Regions from separate parts of the Homo sapiens genome. Here all the other regions are linked to region 4. Evidence: fine-mapped expression QTL. A gene starts in region 4. Each other region holds a variant in brackets. All regions are shown on one strand. Distances are between the middles of the regions.

Region 1 (2,627 bases), 450 kb after region 4:
CTTGATGAAAGGATAAGAATGTATTTCAGAAAGAAGGAAACAACTCATAAGAGTGGAGTTCAACAAACAATGGTGAGCAAAGAAGCTGGGAACACGCTGATTAAGGTGAGTGGCTAGATACAGAAAATAATGACCATCACCAATATGGGGAGTTTTCTGAAAATGAAAGAATAATTTCAGAGGGGAGACCAGTTCCAGGAAAGTTTATCCAAGCAGATGGGGAGACCTTGAGCCATCTGAGGAGTCTGAGATTTCCTAGGCATGGGCCTGTCTTCATATCCCTGCTGGCCTCTGGCTAGAAGAAGCCTGTGAGGGGTGTGGTCTTTCCGTGAATGTGGTGGCCCATTGTGGTGGTAGAGAATGGATTCCCAAAACACTCCCTTCTCCCAGTCATACTCCCCACAGTCACAGATCTGATTGGTGCAGTTTCGTGCTCCCCACAATGTACTTAACTTGCCATTTAAAGTCAGAATTTGTCTGCTAAAAAAAAAGAAAAAGAAAAAAAAATGCAATCCAGCACCGTGGCTCATGCCTGTAATTCCATAGCTCTGGGAGGCAGATGCGGGAGGATTGCTTGAGGCCAGTCTGTGCAACATAGCAAGAACCTTTCTCTCAAAAAAAAAAAACACAAAAAACAAAATTAGCTGGGTGTGGTGGTGCACACCTATAGTCCTAGTTACTGGACTGTGGGAGGCAGGAGCCTAGAAGTTCCAGGTTATAGTGAGCTATCAGTGCACCACTGCACTCTAGCTTGGGCAACAGAGTGAGACCCTGACTCTTAAAAAAAAAAAATTGGCTGGGCACGGTGGGATCACGCCTGTAATCCCAGGACTTTGGGAAGCCAAGGTAGGCGGATCATTCAAGGTCAGGAGTTCGAGACCAGCCTGGCCAACATGGTGAATCCCCATCTCTACCAAAAAAATACAAAAACTAACCGGATGTGGTGGTGC[G/A]CACCTGTAGTCTCAGGTAGTGTTGGTGTGCACCTGTAGTCTCAGGTACTCGGGAGGCTGAGGCACGAGAATGTCTTGAACCCAGGAAGCAGAGGTTGCAGTAAGCCAAGATCGCACCACTGCCCTCCAGCCTGGGCAACAGAGTGAGACCATGTCTCAAAAAAAAAAAAAAAAAAAAAAAGCAGCAATAAAAACTGGCTATATACTTTCAAAAAGAGACATATCTAATACATAAGGACATAAAAAAGTTTAACATAAAAGGATGGGAAAAGATAACGGAGATATGGCCGGGATGCTGGGGAAACCAAAAGGAAGTGGGAGTCTTCAGCACAGAGAAAGTGTGACCAGGGGTTAAGAGGATCAGTTCCTAATCAGCTGCATTTTCCAGGAAGCCATAACAATTCTAAACTTGCATGCACCTAATAAAATAAAACAAAAAAACATAAACTATAAACTGAACAACTTTATAACAAGGCATGCTAATAAATGTTCAAATTCCTAGAAAAATATGTCATATGAATTGACAGAAATAGAAACACTAAATAAGTGTTAGGGCCGGGCATGGTGGCTCATGGCTGTAATCCCAGCACTTTGGGATCCAAGGCAGGCTGATCACTTGAGATCAGGAGTTCAAGACCAGCCTGGGCAACATGGTGAAACCCTGTCTCTACTAAAAATACAAAAATTAACCAGGCCTGGTGGCACGCCCCTGTAATCTCAGCTACTCTGGAGGCTGAGGCAGGAGAATCGCTTGAGCCTGGGAAGCAGAGGTTGCAGTAAGCCAAGACCATGCCACTGCACTCCAGCCTGGGCGACAAAGTGAGTCTCCATCTCAAAAATAATAATAATAATAATAATCATCATCATCATCATCAATAAATAAGTGTTAGTCTGCTCTGGGTGTCATAAGAAAATACCACAGGCTGGGGGACTTAAACAATAAAAATTTATTTGCTACCAATCCTGGAGGCTGAAAGTCTATGATCAAGGTGCCACCAGGATTGGTCTCTGATGAGACTCCTCTTCTTGGCTTGCAAACAGAGACCTTCTCATGGAGTTGTCACATGGCCTTTGCTCTGTGCATGCTTGAAGAGAAAACTCTGGCGTCTCTTTCTCTTCTTGTAAGGACATCAGTCCTATTTGATGAAGGCCTTACTCTTATGACCTCATTTAACCTTAATTACCTCCTTAACGCCCCATGTCCTAATACAGTCACATCACCAGTTAGGGCTTCAACATACCCATTTTGGGGGAGACAGAATTAGTAACATCCAGGAACTATTAAATTATATCATTTTAAAGTCTTCCCAAAAGAAAACACAAGGATGATATCATACCAGATATTCAAAGAGCAGATTATATTTATCATGTTCAAAGTCTTTCCTAGGAGAAAGAGCAAACCTCCAGGTGCATTTTATGAGTCTCTTATGACCTAATACCAAAAACAAATAAGGACAGCACAGAAATTGGAAAGCATGGACCCATCTCTCTCATGATCATAGATAAACAAAAAGTTCTAAATTATGACTAAACTCTAGCATGTTTTAAAATATGGTGGCCAAGTTAGGTTTATTTATAGCATTTTAAAATTGGTTTTGCATGCATTAATGTATCTAAACATACTAAATTTAGGTTACTGGACAGAAATACATGTTCATCACAAAATACCAGAAAAAG
Region 2 (2,705 bases), 400 kb before region 4:
ATAAGGGAAGCATTGCTCTGATACTAAAACCGGAAAAAGATATCACAAAAAAAGAAAATTACAGATGAATATCTGTCATGAACATAAACACAAAAAAAGTCTTCAGGAAAATACTAGCAAATCAAATCGTAAAACATAAAAACAATATTACACCATCACAAAGTTGGGCTTATCCCAGGAATGCAAAGCAGGTGAGATATTTGGAAATCAACCAAAGTAACTCACGGTATATCAACAGGCAAAAAAAAGAAAAACTATATGATGATCTGAATAGACGCAGAAAAAGCATTTAACAAAAGTAAGAGTCCATTCATAATAACTCCGGGAAACTAGGATAATAGGAAGGCTCCCTTAATCTGATAAATGGCATTCACAAAAATACTACAGCGAACATTATACTTTATGATGAAAAACAGAATGCTTTCTCCCTAAAATGGAGAATCTGGAAAGGATGTCCACTCCCTTTCCTCTTATTCAACATTGAACCAAAAGTCCTAGCGAATGCAATAAGTTAGTAAGTCAAAAAAAAAGAAAGAAAGAAAGAAAGAAAGAAAGAAAGAAAGAAAGAAAGAAAGAAAGAAAGAAAGAAAAGAAATGAAAGGCATATACATTGGAAAAGTAGAAAAATAAAACTGTGTTTATTCACCAACATGAGTATCTACTTAAAAAAATTCCAAAAAATATATTTAAAAGGCCCTAGAATTAATGAGCATTTAGGAAGGTTGAAGGACACATTGGTAATATACAAAAATCAATCATATTTCTATCTACTATCAATGAACAATAGAAGTTAAAATATTTTTCATAAGTCTCATTTACAATAGCACCAAAACATGTGAAATATTAGATATAAATCTAACAAAACATATATACAATCTATATGTTAAGACTGCAAAACAAACAAACACTGATGAAAGAAATCAATGCAGACCTAAACAGAGTGAGGAATGCTTCCGTCAGGAGAAACAACAACAAATCCGTTAAAGTGGAATTTGAGAACGCCACCAGGACATTTTGGGTTCCTCATATGCTACTGAATCATCAGGGAAAGGGGGATTACTACACTGCCTAGTGTGCTGGATTCCAAGTATTAAGGGGAAACTGGGCTGCTGCTTTCCAATGGAGTAACGAGGAATACGTCTGCAATGCAGGTGATCCTCTAGGGTGTGTCAAGGTGATTAAGTAAACAGAAAACTAGAACCACCCAA[T/C]TTAGGCAGAACTACTAATGACTTAGATCTTGAGGAATGAATGTGTGGGTCACCCTATCAGACAAGGAACCACAACCAAATGGGATGTTTGCTGAGCTGAAAGAGAATACCAGACAGGTGTAAGACGGCAGTGATCAAAATCAGATACAACCATGTGACCAGCTGCATAAACAGGGATAAAATATTGTGAATTTTTCTTTCTTTTTTGATATGCATATTTTATACATATATATATATCATATTTTTGTTTTCTTTTAAAAATATTAAAGGGAATGTGAATCAGTTGGAAAAGAAAGAATATCACTCAAGACAAAAAAGAGACACTTTTGGAGAAGGGGAGAGAATGTTTTCAGTTGTACACAGATTAGTTTTATCACTGTAGATGCAAGCATAAGGTTGTCCTTATTTGGATATTAAGTAACATTTAAAAGGGTGTATATAGGTGCCAGGCTGATACAGGGTGAACTGTGATAGCTTTATAATATGTTGACATGGCTAGGCTGGACCACTTTTCCCAGAATTCTGTTCTCTGAATGTTTCCAGCTAAAACAGGGCACAAGCGAGGTTCTCATGTCAGATCTGGAAGGTGAACATGGGGCAGCAGCTATTCTGTGCTCAGATGCACTATGGATGATCTCCTGACTCCCCTCATTCTATATGTGGAAGGAAGAACTTAAAATCACAACAGTGCCAATCCTACCTGAATGAATATAACTGGCATGTCATTCTATCTAAATTTCAAACAAGTTTACACAGGAATGAACAAAATAATTTAAAATCACCGATGCAGCAAAAACTTGCCCAAATAGCTACAAAAATGTATTTTTTAAAAAATTAGAGGGAGGATTTTCCTTTCCAGATATATTTAGAATAAGTAGAATCAAAACAGAATAATATAATATGTCCACAGGAACAAACAAGTCAGTTAGTGAAAAAAAATTTAGAGAATACAAAAGGATCAAACATTTTTGGAAACTTAATATGTGATAAAAGTATATATAAATTCATTTGGGAAATGTGGTTTACTTAGTGAATAGTGCTGGTATAACTGTCCAGTCATATGAAAGAAAATATAGTTTTCTATACCCCTATAATATTTAGCAATAAACTGCAGATAGATTCGTGATCTAAGCAAAATAAGTGAATAAAAATTCTGAAGAAAATTTAGGAGAATATTTGCATGTTTTTCCTGTAAAGAAGACCTTTTTAAACATTTTAGAAATTAAGAATGTTCATGAAAGTCTCCCTTCTTAAGGTATAGAATTGAGGGTTACAATTTATAGCACATTTGTCAGACAGACAACATGTTAAGATTTCCAACATGTGAAGAGTTCCTACAAATTAATAAGAAAAACAATGAACAAAGTTTATAAATATGCAAATCCAAGAAGAAGTTAATAAACATATATTAAGATACTTGATCCTAGCTGGGCACAGTGGCTCACGCCTGTAATCCCAGCACTTTGGGAGACCAAGACGGGTGGATCACAATGTCAG
Region 3 (2,705 bases), 240 kb before region 4:
CTTGAAATGGATCCCCATCTCCATTAAACTTGTCCAAAGCTCAGTGAGTATATAACCTGATAACCTAAACACCTAGCTAGAAAAACCTCAGTTCCAGTGCTACAACAGTGCTAGCTTTTCTAACATTTTTAAGTAACCCTGCTTTTAACCCAATAAAATTCAACTACAGAACTAAGAAATAAATATTGGAAATCCACTTTAAAATAATGAGGAGACCACTGTGATTGAGAAAAAGAAAAAGACAAACGAGAGCTGGAAAGCACACTGATTTTGTAGAAACGGAAATAAGCCGTGCAGGTGCCACACTGGCAGCAGTGCCCGCGCTGGGGCCACGGATCAAGGAGGCATGGAGGACAGGACTCTTCTGCTTGGTACAATGAAAAAATGGTATTCTTTTTATTCTACATATTGACAATATGCATTTGGGCCTTTATTATAAGTACAAGAGAAAAATCTTCAATAAATAAAAGCTGAGTACATTACTTTTTTTGATTAAGAAATAGATTAGGAAAGAATAATGAGAGTTCAGAGCAAAGACTCCTGCCTCACTGATGCCTGAAAACCGTGGCTGCCACCAAGGTCAACACAGACAGCGTCTTTGTCATACAGCACACCCTCAACTCCAGAAACAGGCGCATAAACCAGCTGCTCCTTCTTATTTAAACAGCACTTCTTTTGTTATTCAGGAAGAACACAAGGGTCTGGGAGGAAACTGATGTCACTCATGGCAAAATGTTCTACCCCTGGAAGACAGGACCCAAAAAGCCAGCTTCAACTGACAAGAAGTCAGTAAGTATCTACTGTTGACTGGGGGGTTAAAAACGATCCACAGTCCAAGGGCTTAACCCATGACCCTAAAGAAGGGCATTGTGCCACACTGGAACAGTGGCCCTCTAGCTACAAGAGGTCAGAGAAGAGGGATTCGGTAACACCTTTGCAGGCCTACACATAGCTGGCTTACTTTTAAAACCTCCAGCAAGGCCATCTTCCCTTGTTTGGTCATTTTTCACTTTTCCTGAGAAATGAAGCCATCCCAAGAATCCTATGTGCAATTCTCGTATGTTCTACAGCAAGAGAATACCTGGCATGTGAATTTGGCTTTTATTTTTCAAGTGTGCTCCTCTTAAATAACCATAAAGTGACACCTGCAGGTCACATTTGATGTTTGTTTGGATATCCTCCGGGTTTGTCAAATCTTCCATCCTAGAAAAATAAACTCAATCATACAGCAGAAATGAATGCCAAAGTTCCTATACCTCCTTTCATGTGTCAATGACTCATCACACTCTTGTCCATTAAGCACATCACTTAGGAACTAGAAAATGCAGAAATAAGGAAGCACCGTTCACCATCCAGAAGAGGAAAAGGGGCAGGCACACAACTGTGTCTCTAGGCTGAAAGTGACATTCATTCCATAAGACACCAGATGGGAGATGGC[G/A]TCCACCTGGGGTCAGGGAAGAGTGAAGAACACATTCAGAAAATCCATTTCTCGAAGAGGGTGAGCCTGTGCTCTGGGATTTGTACTGTGGCTTGGATTCTGGCAGGTGGAAAAAGGGTATTCCAGGCTGAGAAAATCACAGCACAAAGAAGAGCACAAAGGAAGGAAACTGAAGGCATGCACGAAGGACTCCAGCACCCGGGCATGAAGGCAGCATCACTGAAAACTGAGGCTGAACGTAGGATGGGGCCACATCCTGTAGTCTTAAATGCTTCCAAGTCCTCCCATTTTCCTAAACATCTCATAATTAATTTACTCCCAAAGGCACAGCATCTTTGAGCAATGATATAAGTAGACATTTTCCATCAACTACACTTCTACCCCCACTATTCAAATAGGCACAAAATAAATCCTATCACTGTTCTTTTTCTAGCCTTTTTAGCTTTGAAATATATGGCCCAGGAAGAAAAAGTTTACAATCACCTTTTAACTGTCTGCCAGGATATAAGGGTGAAAAGTTTGCCATGAGAGGCCTAAACTTCATAACTGTAATAAAATGGCCCAGATTGTGGATTTCTTGGTTTTGATATTCTCCATGCACCATTCCAGAAAGGTAGAACAGTTTGGCAACCTAAACATTAAAGGAAAATTAAAAATTAAATTTCAATTAAATTCTCGTCAATACTGCAACAAAATAAAAGCTCTAAACAAGAAGCAATCCTAAGAAGGGAGACTTCCAGCAAAGCCACTGTCCTGAGGCTTCCAGAGCCTTGCTGGATTCTTTCAGGACTTATTAGAACCACACAGAGGCAGACTGCTCTGCAACCAAGCCGGGGCATCCATCTAAGTATGGTGAGGAGAGGGAGGTGAGGCCTCTGAGCACAGAAACGGTTCTGTGGCCGATGGACCACAGCAGTATGGAAAGGAAGGGGCAGTGCCTGGTCCTGTAACTGGGAGAAACTTCTGATGTACTCTATTAAGTCCCGACTCCAAAACACCCAGACATTGCCTGGTGCAGCAGGTACGGAGACAAATGAGATACACCAAGAGGCCCAGAATAACCACTCTCTTGAGGGAAACCTTCCAGAGACTGGGAACACATACACAAAGGGAATTCAGGAGGCAATTCCTAGAGAGACGTTTAGTAATGTCTCTTCAGTCTTTTTGTTTGTTTGTTTGTTTGAGATGGAGTCTCACTCTGTCACCCAGGCTGGAGTGCAGTGGTGCACTCTCAGCTCACTCCACCCTCTGCCTCCCAGCTTTGAGC
Region 4 (2,705 bases):
CTCAGCACAGGGCTGGGCCAACAAGTTGGGGGTCCCGGCACAGGGGACAACGGAGAAGTGCCAACATTGGGACCCAATTATGTGATACTGGGGCCCAGAGATAGTACAGGTGCCTCATACCACGTGGCCCTGGGTGGACAGCAGGAATCTATTGCGAGTGGCGGGAGGCCGGGGCTGCCTGTCCTGCGCCCTGAAGCTGGCCAGCGGTTGTGGAAACTGGGGGATATTGAGGGAACCGTAGGCCCAGGTCCTCAGCCTCATAGTGTGGAACCTGGCGATCCCAGGGCCTGGGCTGGCCCCCGGCGTCACGGGACCGGGAAGGCGCTGTGGTGCTGCGGGGAATTGCGGAGAAGAAGGCGGGCTCCAGTGGAGGTGGCTCATCCCCGCACGGTCACTGCCCTCGCCCGCTGTTGGGGTCCGCGGCTGGGAGACTGAAGGCCTCAAGTCGGGCTGGGTAGGGGCACGTGGGCAGGGAAAGGGGTGGTAGATTACCAGTCTTCAGGGGCGGGGCTGGAGATGCAACCCTAGGGAAGGAGTCTACCAGGCTGGGCTCTTGAGGGGCAATGGAGGGCTCCGGGGGCCAGGCCAGGCCAGGATCATGGAGTTCAAAGGACTGGAGTGAGGTTTGGGGTCCATGAGAGTGGAGCTCAGAGGATGGGACGGTGGGTCCAGGATTTGGGACCTGGGGCTGGAAAGTCCGAGGCTAGTGGAGACCAGGCCTGGTATCCCAGACGAAAGGGCCCTATAGGAAACGGGGTCTCGTGGGCGGGATCTGGAGCCAGAGAATTGTGAGAGGCGGAGCTAGGATGGAGAAGGCGAGAGGAAAGGGGTAGCCGCCGGCGCGGAGACCTCAATGCGGGGCGTGGTGCGGAGGGGGAACTGGAGCGAGGGGCACTGGAGCGAGGGGGTGGGGCTACGAGGAGGTGGACTTGAGGGGCTGGGTCTGGGGCCGGAGAATCGTGGGGAGCTGCGCCTATACACCCGGGACGGTGGGGTTGCGTCGGGGAAGTGGGAGTCTTGGGGGTTCGCTGGGCAGCCTGGAGAACAGGCGGTCGTGGTGCGGGCGGGGCCGAAAAGACCGAGGACAGTGGGGACCCGGCCTGAGGAGGGGTCGGGAAGGAGGGGTGGGGGCGCGCGGACGCAGATCCCGGGCCGCGGCGGGGCGGTGGCAGGCTCCAGAGTGGCACGGGCCCAGGTGAGCGAGGTCTCCGCCCGCCGCCCCTCCCGCCGCCCCGGTGCCAGCTGCCCCGCTGGCCCCTCCCTGTACCCGGCGCTTGCTCCGCGGGCCGGGCCGACGGCGGCGGGCGGCGTCTCGCGCCCAGGCCAGGTCGGCTCTGGCTCCATCTTGGGCCGCGGCACCTGGCACCTGTGGCGGCCGCAGGAGCAGCGCTTCCCCCGCCTGCGCGGCCCCGGCGGGCGAGAGGGTGAGAGGCTGGCTCCGCGCGCTCCCGTTGGGGCGGGGGGCGTGGTGGGCGGCACCTCCCCCTTGCTGAGCCTCAGAACCCACTCCTTCCCGCTGCCTGCGCTCAGACCCCCGGCATCCTGGCCCCTGCCCAGCGCCCAGAGCCCCCGGTGGCCGCATCGCACTCCCCGCGCTCCGCCTCTCATTGTCCTGTCCTGTCCCCTCTTCTACGTCTCCTCTGCCCATCCTCCCATTTTCACAAGTCTGTCCGGGACCCTGTCTCCTTCGGCCTCCACCCCTGCTGCCATCGCTCCTCCCTCTCCCCTTCTTCCTTTTCCCCTCCCTCAGCCTACTGCGCCGCCTACCCCGCCCCCAGCCTTGCTGCCCTTTGGCTTCTCCTGTCCCGCATCATTACCCCGGCCCACAGCCCCATTTGCCTGCAGTCGCTGCCTTTGCTCCTGAGAAGGTCTGTAGCCTCGTTTCGGGCCCGTATTGAGCCCCCTTCTCCCTAAGTCCGGGTGGGCTTTGTGCAGGAGGGGCGGGAGGGGAGCTATTCTGGGCGAGGCTGCGTGGTGCGGTGCTTTCAGGCCTTTGGCCCCGCAGCAGGGGCGGCCTGTGCTTGGCGTGCAGAGTGCAGCTGGGTAGACGCTGTTACTGCATACGGGCCTGTGTGTCCCAGGCTGGGGCATGAGTGCTTGTGAGCGTGCAGATAGGGACACACCGGCCGCCTAGGCTGCTTCTAGGCCGGGGCACCCTCTCCACCTAGGTGCCCCCCAGGGATTGTGGGCAAATCCTCCCCAGGGGAGGAAGCTCAGGGGCTGTTGGGCGCCTAGGCCTCTTCCTGGTGAGCAGAGCCTCATCCATGGGGCCACTGACCCCACAGTTACCCCAGAACCCTTTCCTGGCACAGCTTGTGACCCGGGGCATGTAGCCCTTAAGGCACGTTCATTGTGAAGGGCAGGTTTTGTCTCCTCCAAACCCTCCCTTTAGGAATGCTGCCTGCTGCTTTGCCCAGAGTTGGCCCTGAGTGTTCCTATCAGGCCCCGTTCACTCTGGGGTGGATTAAACCACCTCCTGGAGGGTGCTGTATCCCCACTGTGCAATGGGGGTTTGTGCTGTGTGCATTCCTGCCTGGTCCTTGAGAGGTAAGGTCCATATTTTAACATAGAACCAGTTTTCCTGCCTGATCATATAGGTTTGCTTTTCCTGTTTTGGTTTTGCCGGACACATAAGTCATCATCCAAATGCTTGCCACTTAACTAGAGGGGACTTGGGCCAGGCGCTGTGGCTCATGCCTGTAATC

Direction of the effects. Positions count from the first base shown, and alleles are read on the strand shown. Sizes are in standard deviations (SD) of each study's normalised expression. Not every link is listed here.
As copies of C replace T in region 2, the expression in unexposed skin of the gene that starts at base 1,264 in region 4 goes up (small effect, 0.39 SD a copy in GTEx).

What was found. PIP is the estimated chance that this variant, and not a neighbour inherited with it, causes the effect.
Region 1: its variant is fine-mapped to the expression of GPRIN2 in lung (TOPMed, PIP 0.96).
Region 2: its variant is fine-mapped to the expression of GPRIN2 in unexposed skin (GTEx, PIP 0.97).
Region 3: its variant is fine-mapped to the expression of GPRIN2 in thyroid (GTEx, PIP 0.95).

What each region holds. Positions count from the first base shown.
Region 1 is chr10:46,102,212-46,104,838 of GRCh38, reverse strand. No RefSeq gene overlaps it. Among named protein-coding and RNA genes, the nearest start is that of MSMB, 57 kb to the right of the region's middle. The variant G/A (reference allele first, on the strand shown) is at 951.
Region 2 is chr10:46,951,221-46,953,925 of GRCh38, reverse strand. All of the region lies in intron 5 of PTPN20 (protein tyrosine phosphatase non-receptor type 20), which reads right to left. Among named protein-coding and RNA genes, the nearest start is that of PTPN20, 41 kb to the right of the region's middle. The variant T/C (reference allele first, on the strand shown) is at 1,209.
Region 3 is chr10:46,795,170-46,797,874 of GRCh38, reverse strand. It overlaps the pseudogene BMS1P1. Among named protein-coding and RNA genes, the nearest start is that of FAM245B, 56 kb to the right of the region's middle. The variant G/A (reference allele first, on the strand shown) is at 1,439.
Region 4 is chr10:46,555,217-46,557,921 of GRCh38, reverse strand. GPRIN2 (G protein regulated inducer of neurite outgrowth 2) reads left to right here and starts at 1,264. Exons shown (of 3, transcript NM_001385282.1): 1 at 1,264-1,424. RefSeq lists enhancers at 1-522, 1,228-1,933.